Regions from separate parts of the Homo sapiens genome. Here region 1 is reported to be linked to region 2. Evidence: microRNA targets listed by miRTarBase, many of them from high-throughput screens and not tested one by one. Region 2 holds a microRNA gene; the other region holds the end of a gene's coding sequence.

Region 1 (3,000 bases), not on the chromosome of region 2:
TCTCTGCTAGTGATTTATCTTCAACACATTGGACTGAACAAAAAGAAAACCAGATAGATCAAAATAGTATGCACAATTCTGAAATTACAAAGAGAGCTCAAGACATCTCTGTTAAAACAAGAAGTAGTTGGAAATCTTTAGAAAAAAGCCAGTCACCACAAACATCCCAGGTGAGTTCTTACCTGCCTTCAAATGTGTCCGAACTTAATGTCCTGGATAGCAGTACATCAGATCACTTTGAAGAAGGCAATGATGATGTTGGTTCACTAAATATTTCCAAGCAATGCAAAGATATTTGTGAATTAGTAATAAATAAACTTCCAGGATACACAATGTAAAAATACATGCTTTTAAAAAACTTTCAAGGACCTATGTGTACTGTTAGTGAAAAAAATTTTAAAGCTGTTTTAGTTCATGAATTATGTGAATAATTTTTTAAAGAAATATGAATTAACGTTATTCCTTTGATGTTTAAATGGTATTTTACCATTAAATCTGATAATATTGATTATTAAATCATATAAACAGATTTCTTTTTAAATTGTTTAATCATAAGAATAAAAGTGTGTCTTTCTAAATTGTCTCTCTTAAAGTGTCTAGTCTACAGTATTGATCATTCTAAAGCTGACTTCATGCACACCACTGAAAAAGAAGGCTAGTTAGTAAGGACAGCCTCAAATTTTAATTGGAACAAATTATTTAACAAATATAGAAGACTTACTGTGTTAGATGCAGAAAGGTGCAGAATCTATTTATGATAGAGCCCTGCTGTTTTAAAAGCTTACAGTTGTATGTAGATAAGAAGTCTTCCTTGACATATACATATCCCATATCCCCAATAGGTGAAGTTGCTTTTATATGCTCTCATAGTGCCCTGCACCTTTTGTTTATAAGCCACAATTTGTGTGATTACTTGATTAAAGTTTATCTTCCACTAGGCTTCAGTTGTGTGATGGGATCATATTTGTTTTACACATCAGTGCATTTTTGTATCTAGCACAATTCCTGGCATGTGGCTGCAGTGCAATAAAAACATTTGTTGAAAAAAACGAAGCCCAGGCATTTAAAATACCTAATGGGAGGGTTTAGAATTAAGCAGCAAAAATAAGCAGATTCCCTAAAATAAACCTGCAGAAAATCCTTATTGGAAATATATTTGACTGTAATATTTCTGTTTTGCTTGGTATAAATAGCCTTCAGGTGTTCTCTGAAATATTTGGAAAGGGAAACTTAAGAAGGTATCTTTTATACAGTTTCTGATATAGGAGTTCAGTTTCTTGTCATTTCAGTTTGTTCAATGGTTATTTTTAGTGTATGGAACTTTGTTTTTATGAAATCCAGTGATAATTTATAATTTATTCCATTGGTTTTATATTTAGACTTTATTCTGTGTTCAAATATTTACATATATTTTCTTCTAGCTGTGTTATACTTTAATTTTTAGACTTTTTAATATATCTAACGTTTTTGAATGTATGAAGTGAGGTTCTAATTTCCTTTCTTTAAAGGTAATTAATTATATAGGTATTCTGAATGATCATAATACTAGAATATAGATAGATGGTAAAAAGAGAGAAGAGGATGTTACATTTTGGGGAGCAATATGAATAAAAGAGTGATGGGAATGAGCCTGATATATTTATGGGACAATTTAAAATATTATCTTGAATAGAATGATCCACTCATGCTACAGAGTGGTAGAAAGGACATTTGTTGAGTAAGGAAAATGCCAGATTACAGAGAGCCTCAAATGCTAAGTATAATAATAGAATTCTAAGCAATAGGAATAACAGATTATTTTAGGTTATAAATGAGCACTAGTAAGTAGTCATGACATTTTGAATATTTTAAATTATTGAAAATAATAAGCAGAGAAATTATATCAGTTAAAGTTTTGAGATATGAAAGGTTTCTGTGGCTAGTGGCTATGATCTTAATTTTTCTAAAATATAAAGCATATAGTATAACATTTCACAAAATCAAAATATTGTAATGCCAGGTATTGTAACTAGATGTTTAATGATGTGAACTGTGTAAATTGTTTAATAGCAATTTGTCATTACTATGGAAGAGACAATAAAAATATAAGCAATATCAGAATCATCAAAGAAATAATTCCTTATAAACCAACGTTTTATTTGGTAGAGAGTAAGTCATTGTCTGTGGTAAGAATAGGTAAAATGATTAATTTAGCAAGTCTAAGGTACAACAAGACCAAAAAACTAATGCACTTTAAATTACAAAGCTGAGTAGCTGAATCCGCTTCTCTTTGAGTTAATCCATGAATACTTATTTCTAGAATTGTGATAATTGTTTCTTCTAGTCTAATTCTAGTGAAAATATCTGTTTTCATGTATTTAGTCCTTCCTATTACATTCTACAAATTCTACTCCATGTTTTAATTCTACAATCTATAAGCTTATTTTAAAAGAATTTTGTAATAGATACTATTCATGGAGCCTTATTTATCTCCTTAGTTGCTTAAAATTATTGAAACATGAAATAGTATTTCAAGTCACAAATAAGGGAGACTGTCATTTCATTGTAAAACCAAGCTATTGCAAACCTTCCAAAAGGTCTTCTGAATATCATGGGTGTCTAAACTGCTATGGACAAAGCTGAGTGGGAGAGGGTCTAAAATGCAAAGTGAGCCACAGAAAAGATGTTAAGACCTACCTCTATGTAATGTTGAATGTTTACAGCTTAGGAACCAACCACCAATAATAAGTCCTCTGAACTGTTCCCATAAACATTTGCAGAGGGCTGTGCAGATGCATACAGTACGCTGGGTTTTTTCCCTTCACTTACAATGCATGCTATTGATGACATTTTCAGATGCAAAGAACAATGATATTAAACTTCTATCATGCAATTATTATGGCTTTCTGCTGAGAGCCACTCCTTTACATGTCAATTAATTTAGATTTTTCTTCATGTACAAGCAGTGAATTTAGTATGGAATTACATTTAGGAACCAGACTTTTATTGGTAGCAAAATAT
Region 2 (3,230 bases):
GACATAGTGTATTTGTTACCACTGGATCTCAGTCTGGATGTTATAAATTCGATACTTAATCTTATTAAATACTCTGCACATTTTATTAACTAATAAATAGGACACTTAACATTCATTGTACTGGTTTTGAAAAACCGACTTAATTTGTAAGTGTAACAAGATACTTACAGTTGGATAATTTAAATGTCTATTACTTGTGCTGAAATGTATTTAACTTTCAAAACCATTACAGTTAGTGCTGATTTTGTTGTTTTAACTTTTAGGTTTGTGATTGAGGATTTCAGAGTGGGTTTTTTTTTTAATGCTTAATTGAATATTGTATTCAAACAAAAAGAGGGCATGCATGTGACTTGTTGCTAATATGTGTCCATTTTAAAAAGGAAAAAGTGGTATCTAATGAGTTAATCATTAAGGAGTATGCGCAGTGCCGGCCATTTCAGGACATGAAAGTTTCTGTGGAGCTGCTTGAAACAGGAAGGAGCGACTTGACATCAAGTATTTAAACTTTTTGATTTATGTTTTGATAGATGACATTGATAGGTATAAATTATAAATAAGTTTGAGTAACCAGTTTAATATGTAAACTGGTATTTCATCTACAGAAAGTTCTCTGTCATTGTTTGGAGCTCTTTAAAATAACTCAGCTGGGGTGTTTAAGAATAAAAACACTAGCAGTGAGTTAGGACATCTAATGCTTTTAAAGATAGATGTATATGTCGCAACGATAGTGTAAGAATCAGCTGAAGCTACCGGTGAGGTTTTGGTTATTTTCTTTCAGTCATCTGAGTCCATTTCCAATAAAGGTTGTTTTTTTGTTTCGTTTTTTGTTTTTTTTTAATGGGGACAATGAATGAGACTTGTAATATGCAGCAGGAAGAAGTTTCACCAAGACTTTGAAACTGGCAAGAATGATCCAGATGTCCAATTGCCTCTACTTAACCTTATTCGTCTACCTTCAGAAGTAATTAGATTCTCTTCCACACTAATTCGTATCCCCCATCGCTCTGCTTTTCACCCACTACGTTGTTCCAAGATTCATCCTCAGGGGAAAAAATTGAGAGCCACACTTTCGGCTCCACCTGCAGCTCCTGGAAATCAAATGGTGAAGTTATAAGAAGTACCTTAACTTGGAGTGAAGTGGCCTAGTCATAAGTTTTGCCCTATTCCTTGCCAGGGGGTGGGGCGGGGCTTCCTTCAGTCATCCAGTCTTTATTCACCCGCAGGTACCCCCAGATCGATCCCCCTTCATTGACTCCGAGGGGATACAGCAGCAATTCATGTTTTGAAGTGTTCTAAATGGTTCAAAACGTGAGGCGCTGCTATACCCCCTCGTGGGGAAGGTAGAAGGTGGGGTCTGCCGGACGCGTGTTCCTGCCACCAGGTGCCCGCTCCCCGCGAGGCCGGCTCAGGAGCAGGTAGGTGGGCGGGGGCTCGCGTCTCTGTTTCCGGCGGGTCCTCGCCCTTGTCCACGCAGCAGGGCTGTAGTCCGGGGAGGGCAGTATTCCTGGCTAGGCTGGGGCGCATAGGCGGTGCGAGTCGAGGAGAGACGCGGTGCCCGCGCTCAGCCGTGCCCTAGCAGCGGGAACAGTTCTGCAGTGAGCGATCGGTGCTCTGGGGTATTGTTTCCGCTGCCAGGGTAAGTCTGGGACTGCCGTTCGGGCCTACCCAGCAGGTAAGTCTTAGGCCATCGCCTGCGGTGTCGGCCCCGGGAGCAGCGAGACCCAAGATTGCATCAAACGTTTGCCCCGTCTCTGCATATGTGACTGGACGTGAATGATGCTTCATTTTGGCACCCCCTTTCCCTGCTCAGGTAGAATGTAAACAATTGAAAAAAATCCCTTCCCAATCAGAATACCACCCACAGGACAACGAAGAAAACCTATCTTCAGTCCCCACCCACGAAATGCTGGGGGGTGGGGAGGACTGGAAAAGGAGTAAGGGGAGAGGAAGGGTGAGCAGCTGCAAGAAGTCTTTACACCTCTCTGCGGTTCCTGGTAAACGCGCTCATGTCCTGGGTATGGAAGGGACTTAAGAATTCAGGAAAGATCAAAATAACGGGCCTCTTCCCCACTCCCTCGCCCTCCCTTCCCCGCTGCTGGGGGGTTAGGGAGGCTCCGTGGAGCTCCAGCACTCTAGAAGGATCGGGTGAGGCGCGAGGCCTTGCGGGCGGGTGAACCCAAGGTGGGGTGGAAGGCTCCAACCCGCCCAATCTGAGCCCGAGGCCTGCTGAGAAGCATGGGGGCCTTGGGATAGTTCCAGAATGAGGATGTGCGTTTCTAGCTGCTTTGCGCCCTCCTCCCCCAAAAATCTGCTACCACAATTCCAACCCGGCGGCACGCCCCCAAGACTCCTTTGTCGCCCCAGGGGCGGGACCTGAGCTGTCGATTTCAGGAGCCCTTCGTGACTTCAAAAGTCCTGGGCACTGTTGCTCATGAGTGCTGCACAACTGTCGCCCTCTAAAGCCACCTCCATCCCTCACTGGGCTGGCCTCCTGAGCCTTCGGTGAGGAAACGGGGTTCCGAGTTGCCCGCCTGAGAGCTTAACAGTCTGACTAGAAAAGGGCTAATTCGCTTTCTGTGCAAATCTCTTGAGCTAATTATTTAATCTGAAACATGGACAGGTAAAGGACCATTGGCGGGCGTGGGGAGGGAGGTGTGGAATCTTTCCCACACTTTTTGTCACCTTAAAGAAAAAAAAAAGACACCCAAACTCCTCTGGTCTGAATGGGCTGCCTGGAACTGGGCTTCCCGGGGCCAGGAGTGGGCCCCTAGAAGTTTCCCAGTTTGGGGTGGGGCCGGGGTTCCGAAGTCTAGAGCTGGGAGTCGGGTTCAGCGGCCCGAGACGCTGGCTCTCCCAGACTCCCTTGCGCCGGGGCAGTGCGCGGGGGCGGCTCGGGTCCCTCCCGGGCCGGCGGGGACCCTCAGGCTCCCGGGGCGCCGCCCACCAGCCCGACCCGGCGGCCTAGAAATCCCCATTCTGCTCCCGCCTCGCCCCGGCCGGCCAGCGCAGGGCCCCTCAGGCCCGCAATCTCCAGGCTCAAACGGCGAACAGGTCCCCGCATCCGCCTGCCTTTGCACTTGGGGGTGGGAGAGCCACCTTGTGACGCCCCTTCTGCCTCTCACCAGCTTCCCCCTTTCTCCCCGTCCTGTACGGTTCCCCCTGGAGCCAGAAGGAAGCCCGGTGCCAGCCAGCCTTCCTGAAAGACCAAGCCCGCGCCATCCGGCTTCCTC

What was found. The annotated mature microRNA hsa-miR-424-3p reads CAAAACGUGAGGCGCUGCUAU and lies in region 2 at 1,303-1,323, shown strand. An mRNA with a match to its seed (bases 2 to 7 or 8) in the 3' UTR can be bound and repressed. Matches are read on the target gene's strand: a 7mer-m8 pairs with bases 2 to 8, a 7mer-A1 pairs with bases 2 to 7 and ends in A, and an 8mer does both.
Region 1: the mRNA of MAP10 is a reported target of hsa-miR-424-3p. Seed matches in the 3' UTR shown: 7mer-m8 at 1,462-1,468.

Annotation. Positions count from the first base shown.
Region 1 is chr1:232,807,830-232,810,829 of GRCh38, forward strand. MAP10 (microtubule associated protein 10) reads left to right here. Exons shown (of 1, transcript NM_019090.3): 1 at 1-2,100. The coding sequence ends at 338. Among named protein-coding and RNA genes, the nearest start is that of MAP10, 3.9 kb to the left of the region's middle.
Region 2 is chrX:134,544,737-134,547,966 of GRCh38, reverse strand. MIR424 (microRNA 424) reads left to right here and starts at 1,256; the gene lies at 1,256-1,353. MIR503HG (MIR503 host gene) reads left to right here and starts at 1,337. Exons shown (of 3, transcript NR_024607.1): 1 at 1,337-1,415; 2 at 3,170-3,230. MIR503 (microRNA 503) reads left to right here and starts at 1,569; the gene lies at 1,569-1,639.